Homo sapiens: one gene and its partner. The protein of the gene in region 2 purifies or fractionates together with the protein of the main gene of each other region. This does not show direct contact. Each region holds a gene or a part of one and is shown on either strand. Other genes may lie near its edges.

Evidence for each region.
Region 1: the proteins of ARHGEF17 (region 2) and TMOD2 purify together in Homo sapiens (affinity purification with mass spectrometry; one large-scale study listed by BioGRID and IntAct). This does not show direct contact.

What each region holds. Positions count from the first base shown.
Region 1 is NC_000015.10:51,754,300-51,758,114, forward strand, and holds part of TMOD2 (tropomodulin-2), read left to right. Parts: intron 1-3,815. UniProt on the Homo sapiens protein: Blocks the elongation and depolymerization of the actin filaments at the pointed end. The Tmod/TM complex contributes to the formation of the short actin protofilament, which in turn defines the geometry of the membrane skeleton.
Region 2 is NC_000011.10:73,356,626-73,360,440, reverse strand, and holds part of ARHGEF17 (rho guanine nucleotide exchange factor 17), read right to left. Parts: intron 3,733-3,815; coding exon 3,682-3,732; intron 3,417-3,681; coding exon 3,307-3,416; intron 3,200-3,306; coding exon 3,114-3,199; intron 608-3,113; coding exon 489-607; intron 122-488; coding exon 1-121. UniProt on the Homo sapiens protein: Acts as a guanine nucleotide exchange factor (GEF) for RhoA GTPases.

The DNA of each region.
Region 1 (3,815 bases), on a different chromosome or scaffold from region 2:
GTAGTGTTGGGGGAAAAATGATTTAGCTTTGTGATAGGATAGAAGTTTTGGGGTTTCCTCTCATTCCCTTGTGTGTAAATCATATACAACCAAATGTTTTCCTTATAGACTTTAAGTGGTTCAAAGAGGTTCATAGAAGGCATGTGCAGAAGAGACTTCCTGTTACCAGACCACGAAAACAGAATCAACTCTTACAACACTTAATCTCTTACACGGAATCCCTTGCTGCAAAGATATTTTTGCTTTACCTGGATTATATGTGTTTATGTATACATGAAAATACTAATTTAAAGTATACATATTTACTTGCATGAATGTCTGTGTGTACTTGTGAATCTCTCAGTCAGTATTCCCCAAAATACATAGAATGTTAATGGGTTACAAGAAAAAGAAATTGCCTAGCCAGATGTGGAAAACACTAAACAAAGCTGGACAAGTTGGTTTATTCTTGACTTTTCAGAGCCTTTCATGGGTTAATGATCATTGTATATGGGGATGTAAATGGGGTGGGAATGTCCATAGGATGTGATATGTAATGTTTCCCAAACTGTGTGCAAAAATAAAAAATGAAAAATATCTTGAGGGGCTATCGTTACATGGAACCACCTTTGAGAAACTGCCTTTAATGCATTTTTGAGTGAAAGGTCAGGACATATGATTAAATGTGTAAGTTGTAAGTATTTGTGCTTCACATTACTTACAGATTAGAATTCAAATTTCAGTTTCTGGTTTTAATGGATCATAACAGTTTGACCCCAGTCTACTTTTTCATCCTAAATTTCCTAACTTTCTTCCTATAAATTCTCCTGCTTAGTCCTTTGTTGTATACTATGAACCATTTTTATTTTCAGCACACCAAAAAGTCAATTCTACGTAACTTTAAGGCTTCGTGGTTGTGTAAAATGAGATGCGCTCTTCTGCTATGGCTCTTCCATGGACTGAAATAGCCACCTTTCCTCCCAAAGCCATTTTGAGTTCCTTGGCCTTGGTCCCATGTTTCAGCACAACCTTCCTTAAAGCTGTGATTTCTTGCTATTTCTGCTTTTATGATTTGCCATCCTGTTTTGGCATCAAGGCTGCCCCACTAATTACCTCTTTCACATGTGTCATCACTATTCCTAGGTTCCCCTGGTGAGAGCTAGGTAGGGTGGGGATGAGAAAGTCAACTCCAGGACTGTGAGTGGCAGGAGCTCACAAAATAGGGCACAAGGCCAGCCATGCCAAGCCTGGACATGAGGAGAAAGGAGACAAGCTGGGGCACAAGCCCTAAGAAAGGACCAGGAGGTCCCTCATCAGAGTGGTTAGAGGAGTGTGGAGTCCAGTGAGCTGGGCTGCTATTCAAGCGGTGTGCATGGGGACAACTGTCCTCATTGTTGATAAACAACCATTCTGACTGGGCAGTGTCCCTTCTATACCAGTTGCTAAATGTTTTGCACATCATCTAGGTAAGCACTCACAAGTCAGGGTGCATACAGCATCCATAAGTCATTACAAAACCTGGATCAAAACCTAGCTGGTATAAAATGCCAAAGAAAGAGACAAGATGAGTGAGTCAAAGACCACATAAGCAAGCAGAAGAAAGGAGGGCACATGAATCAAAGGACAAAAAGCAGGAAACCCGGTGCCAATCAGGAAGTTAGAAGAAGCCCATAAGTTCCCAAAGGCAAGAGGAAGGACATGGTTAAAAGCAACAGGCAGTTAAAACCCAGAAAGGCGCAGATCTCCAAGTGGAAGGCAAGGAGATAAATAGAGGTCAAGCAAGAGGAACTCCTCTAAAAACAGAAAAGAAGGCCAAACACAGGGACAAGACAACAGCGGGAAATAGGACCCGCCATGAGAATTAGAAACCAAGAGGCAGGCTGGGCAGACAGCAAGACTTTTTGGCTTTTTGACTGCTTCCTACCCAGGTGGAAATCTATCTCATAGCTTGGCTAGCTTACACTATGGTGGCTTTCTACACCTGGCAATGCTGACCCGCAGCTCTTACAGGTTTTGCCTCTTTATATTCAGCAGATCTTGATGGGGAAAACAGAGGGAAAGAACACCTAAAACACGAGATTATTCCACAACCAAGGACGAAAGAGAAATAGCTTTGACTGAGGGCTTGCGCTTGCTAGACACTGCGCCTAATATGTACATGGTCACCTTAAGTGTCACCTCAGCCTTCTGAGATAAGTACTGTTCTTTGCATGTTTTACTGAGGAAGGACCAGAAGTTTGGAGAGGTTGTCACTGCACACATATCTGCACCATCAGACCTTGGGTTGGTTAACTCCAAGGCCCGTGCTTTTAGTCTTCTGTGTTCTTCTAACCTTGGACAGGAGCAGTCACTAGTGGGCACCTTGTTTTTCAAGTATGATTTAATCTTTGGCAAGTTTGTGTTGTAAGATTGGGAAATACGAGCTCTGCATTCTAGTAAGATCTGTTCCTCTTTCCTCTTTCAGCTTGTTCCTTCCCATTGCCGTACCATATTTCAGACTGAGACTTCTCCTTATCCCGCCTCATTCTGTCCTTCATCCTCTGCAAGTATTTCCCAGAATATATAGAAGTCTTTTAGTTGTTTAAAATAAAACAAACTTAATTGGCCCATCTTCAAATAGCTACATTACAAAACAGGCGGTTGCTGTGTTATATTTGCCCAGCAGCCAGAAATGAATTAAATATCTAAGATCAATTCATGTTTTGTTGGAGGATACATTGATATGCAGATTCTGTTCTAATTTACTAGTTTTAGAAAATGTGGATTTGGTTCTGGTGCAAATCGGTGCACTAATTGTTTAAAATTATGAAATATTGAAGACATATTAAAAAGAATAAAGAGGGCTGAGCGTGGTGGCTCACGCCTGTAATCCCAGCACTTTGGGATGCCAAGGCAGGTGGATCACCTGTGATCAGGAGCTCGAGACCAGCCTGGCCAACATGGTGAAACCCCGTCTCTACTAAAAATACAAAAATTAGCTGGGCGTGGTGGCGGGCACCTGTAGTCCCAGCTTCTCGGGAGGCTGAGGCAGGAGAATGGCGTGAACCCGGGAGGCAGAGCTTGCAGTGAACGGAGATCGCACCACTGCACTCCAGCCTGGGCGACACAGCCAGACTCCGTCTCAAAAAAAAAAAAAAAAAAAAAAAGCCATACTCCTTATTTTCCTTCCCAAGGCTTGTATATTTGGATAATAGGAAGAGTTATTTAAGGGCCCAAGTCATGCTTCCATCAGCTCAAGTCTTTAATCCTATTTTCTGTTTTCCTAACTGGCTCCTGTACTTGCCCACCAGGACTCCTGGAAGCCTTGTTAGGCATTTGCTTCACTCCAGCATGTACATTAGCATCATATTGCATGTTAAATGCTTGCCATGGGACAGACACACCACTGGAGGGGAGGCTGTAGCAGTGCTTGCTAACTTCCCACGGCAGCATTGCTAACAGGACGGAAGACAAATGGGAGCCCTTGGGCAGCCTTGGTGGGGGCAAAAGCAGACCAGCCATGAGCTGGAAAAGCTTTGATTTGACTTTAAAAGCTATGAGAATACTGCATTCTTCTCCACAGTATTTCTATATTTGCTTTTTAAAAATACAGCCTGGGCAATGTAGCGAGACCCTGTCTCTACAAAAAATTTAAAAACTAGCTGAGTATAGTGGGACATACCTGTAGTCTCAGCTGGGGTCAAAGGAGGTGGGGGGAATACTGAGGCAAGAGGTTCACTTAAGCTCAGGAGTACAAGGCTGCAGTGAGCTATGATCACATCATTGCACTCCAGCCTGGGGAACAGAGTGAGACCCTATTTCTAATAATAATAATAATAATAATAATAACTAGCTTT
Region 2 (3,815 bases):
GCCGAGTGGCGCACAGCTCCAGCTTGGTTGGCGGGAAGGAAAGCGCGTAGCACAGCGCCTGCTTCTCCGACAGGTCCCGGTGCATGGCAGCTGAGAGGTCCCGCAGTGCATCGTCCAGGCTCTGTGGGGAAGAGGGCCCAGGCCTCAGGCCCCAGCATCTCACCAGAGCCTGCACCTGCCCTTAATGTGTGGGGACCTGCCTCTCTCCTTAGACAGCAAGTGAGACTGTCTCCTCCCTCAGACCTGGATTCCTTTGATATATGGGGGATGGGGCCTCTGTCACCCTCTGATGGGGATGCAGCTATGTCTCCACCCTCAGACCTGGAACATGTTACTTCCCCCATACGCAGGGAGGCTGCGATTTTTGCCTTCAGATGAGGGAAAGGGATGTCTCTTCCCTCAGGCAAATGTCAGGGCTGTCTATCTCTCAGACAGGGTCAGAAGCCTCCCACCCTCTGGCTCCCCAGTGTCAGGCAGAGGGCACAGACCTGGTGGGGGAAACCAAGGCTCTCAGAGAGCTTGCTCATTTGGCCCAGGGTGGTGAGGTCCTCATCAAGGCGGCTGATGGCCTTCTGGATGTTCTCCCGATTGGTGGCTTGGGATGCCCCTAGAGGGAGAGAGGAAGGCCGTGGACTGATACAGAGACAGACAAGGTCAGGCTGGGACAGACTCTCCTTCCCTCACTGCATAGCCTGCAGCTGGGCCGGGGAGAGACCTGACAAACCGAAAGCATAGAAACCCCAAGCTCTTGGGAAAAAAGTTAACAGGCAGCTCCCTGAGGAACCCCAGCCCTGTGAGCTGGGGACTAGGCCTGATTCAGAGCCATGTGGCGCAGGATGTCAGGCCCACGGAGAATTCCCAGGAGAGCATGGAGTATGAAATGGTGGCTGGCTCTGCGATACACAGGCCCTGGCTGACACGGAACTGCTGCGGCGTTGCAGCCTCCCGTGGGCGTGCTGACAGAGCAGGCAGAGCCCCAGGCAGTCAAATGTGCTGACCAAGAGACTCATCGCCCCACAAAGGAGGGGGCAGTGCATGGTGCCCTGGATTTCTATGGTCCTATCCCATACCTGAACACTGCCAAGCAGCTGGTCCTGCAGACGGCCTGCCGCCCTCAACCCAAGGCTTGGGACGCACATTCTGGACCAGTGGTCCATACATGGAGCTGTCCCTCCACCCTTGGGCCAGGACACATGTGTCTTGAAATCAAGGGAAAAGAAGTGTCTTTTTGCTTTTTCCTAAATGAGTTTCTTTTCCTGTTTTTCTCCAATCTAGTTTATAGAATGTGTTATTGGTGTATATAAATTTAATATTTGGGCCACAGGTTGCAGAATGGTAAGGCAGCCCTGGACGGGTCATGACAGCACTAGAGACATGGAACCTGAGACTGGCAAGTCCTGTCTGAAGTGGCCCTGTGACCAAGAACCCCGTGGGGGTGAGAGGCAGCCTGCTGAGGAGGGGAGGGCACGCTTTGTAACTGTAAGATGGAGTCACGCTGGACAGGGAGGCTGTCTCACTGTGTCTACGGGAAGAAGAGTGTGTGCCCGGTGGATGGCAGTGGAGTTTCCTGCCAGGCCGAGGCTGGGAACAGCTCTGCTGTTGCCTGAATGTTTGTGTCCACTCAACACTCACAGGTTGAAATCGAATCCTGAGTGTGTTGGTATTAAGAGGCGGACCTGGCTGACGTGTTGGCTCACGCCTGTAATCCCAGCATTTTGGGAGGCCGAGGTGGGCAGATCACAAGGTCAGGAGATCAAGACCATCCTGGCTAACATGGTGAAACCCCATCTCTACTAAAATACAAAAAAAAAAAAAATTAACCGGGCGTAGTGGTGCGCACCTGTAGTCCCAGCTACTTGGGAGGCTGAGGCAGGGGAATTGCTTGAACCCGGCAGGCAGAGGTTACAGTGAGCCGAGATCGTGCCACTGCACTCCAGCTTGGCAACAGAGTGAGACTCCGTCTCAAAAAAAAAAAAAAAAAAAAAAAGAGGCGGACCTTTGGGAGGTGACCTGGTCATGAGGGGGAAACCATCGTGAATGAGATTTGTGCCGATAAAGGGGCCTGAAGGAGCTTGTTTGCCAAGTGAGGACACATAGAAGGCACCCTCTGTGAGGCACAGGCCCCTTGCAGTTCTGCTGGCACCCTCATCTTGGCCTTCCCAGCCTCCTCAACGGTGAGCAATACATTCCTCTTGTTTATAAATTGCCCAGTCTGTGGTATTTTTGTTAAAACAGCCTGAAGAGATGAAGCCGATCTACTCCTTTTGACAGAAACTGTCCCATCCCAACCCTCACCACCTGGGCAGCCATGTTTTCTTCCATATGACCCTGCCCCATTCTTGCTCACAGCTGACTGGACCAGGAGTGGGCACCTAACTTAAAGGTGGTCATTCTATTGACTTGGACCAATTAGAGTAATAATCAGCTGGTATTCCTACATAGTGGGCAGGCCTGGGTTCACCAAGGGGCCGAGCAAACCTGTCTGTTACCCTGAGGGCCAAGCTCCAGGTGAGCTCCCCTCCAGCTGAGCCAGGAGCCAGCCTGGGTCTGATCACGGGAGTTATGAGGAAGCAGGGAAAGCTAACAGCAGTGAGAACAGGGCAGACTCAGCAAGAAGGGAAGAAAGACAGACGCCGCAGGAGGAGCGGCTCCTGGAAGCTGCCTCAGCTCCCAACAGTCTCAGCCCTGAACAACATGGATGGCTCCAATCAACCCTTTGCTTGCAGTAACTCAAGCGAGTGTCTGTTCCCTGTGTGTGAAACCGCTGAACCAGACAGTGCAACATCATCTAATATTAGGCGCTCAAATGATTTTGCACAGATGAATCAATGGCTAATTACAGTGATGCTGCTCTGTGTGCACCACCCCCACCCAGCTCCCGCTGCCAGCCTAGGTCCCTGCCCAGTTGGAAGGAAGTGTACATGGACAGACTGTCTGGCTCCATGGGTGCCAAATGGGTCCTTCATGCCAGCCCCCTTGCACTGGATGAGAGAGCGAGGCCCAAAAGTGGAAAAGCAGCTGGACAGGCAGCCAGACTGGCTGGAGCTCAGACCCTCCAGGAGGGCTTCTCAGAGGAAGACCCCAACACCCAGAACCCCTAGCATCAAACCCACCTTTGATGATGTCTGCGTCTTCCAGCGGCAGCTTCCACAGCATCTTGTACTTGCTGGCTGTGTCAATGACACTGGCTGCCGTGTACCTGTGGGGAGCCAATGGGGCGCTCTGGCCAGGGTCGGGGAGTGGGGCTCAGAGAGGGACAAATGCTCCCCCTGTTGGCACCACCCAAACCCCGGCCCAGCCACTCACAGGCTCATGGAGCTGCGCCGCAGGGAGCCTGACTTTCGCTTCAGAGTGGTGCAGACGATGAGGTCCGTGAACAGGAAGAGAGACCGGTCCTTCTTGCCACCGATCGCCTTCTGTGGAGCCCAAGGCAGAATTCAGGCTGGGTGGACACAGTCCAGAAGCCCACCCCCCTGCCCATAGTGCCCAAGGGGACACTGAGACCCAGGGAGAGTGAGGGCTCTTCCCCAGCTTCCCAGAGAGTCAGAGCAGAGTGGGGACTCGACCAGGGCTCCCCTCGGGGTGAAAGAGCAGGGAGACCTGCAGGTAGAGGGTGTGAGCAGAAGAGAGGACAAAGTGAGGAGGTGGGGACAGCCGGACAGATACTGGGACACTTCTTACCACTTCAATGACCATCTCCTGTCTCAGGAACCGCCGCAGAGGGGCCTGGAGCTGTGGGACAGGAGGGACAAGGCATCTCGAAGGCCAGTTATTAATCCCTATCCCCTCCAAAAATCCCAGTGATCCCTCGGCCC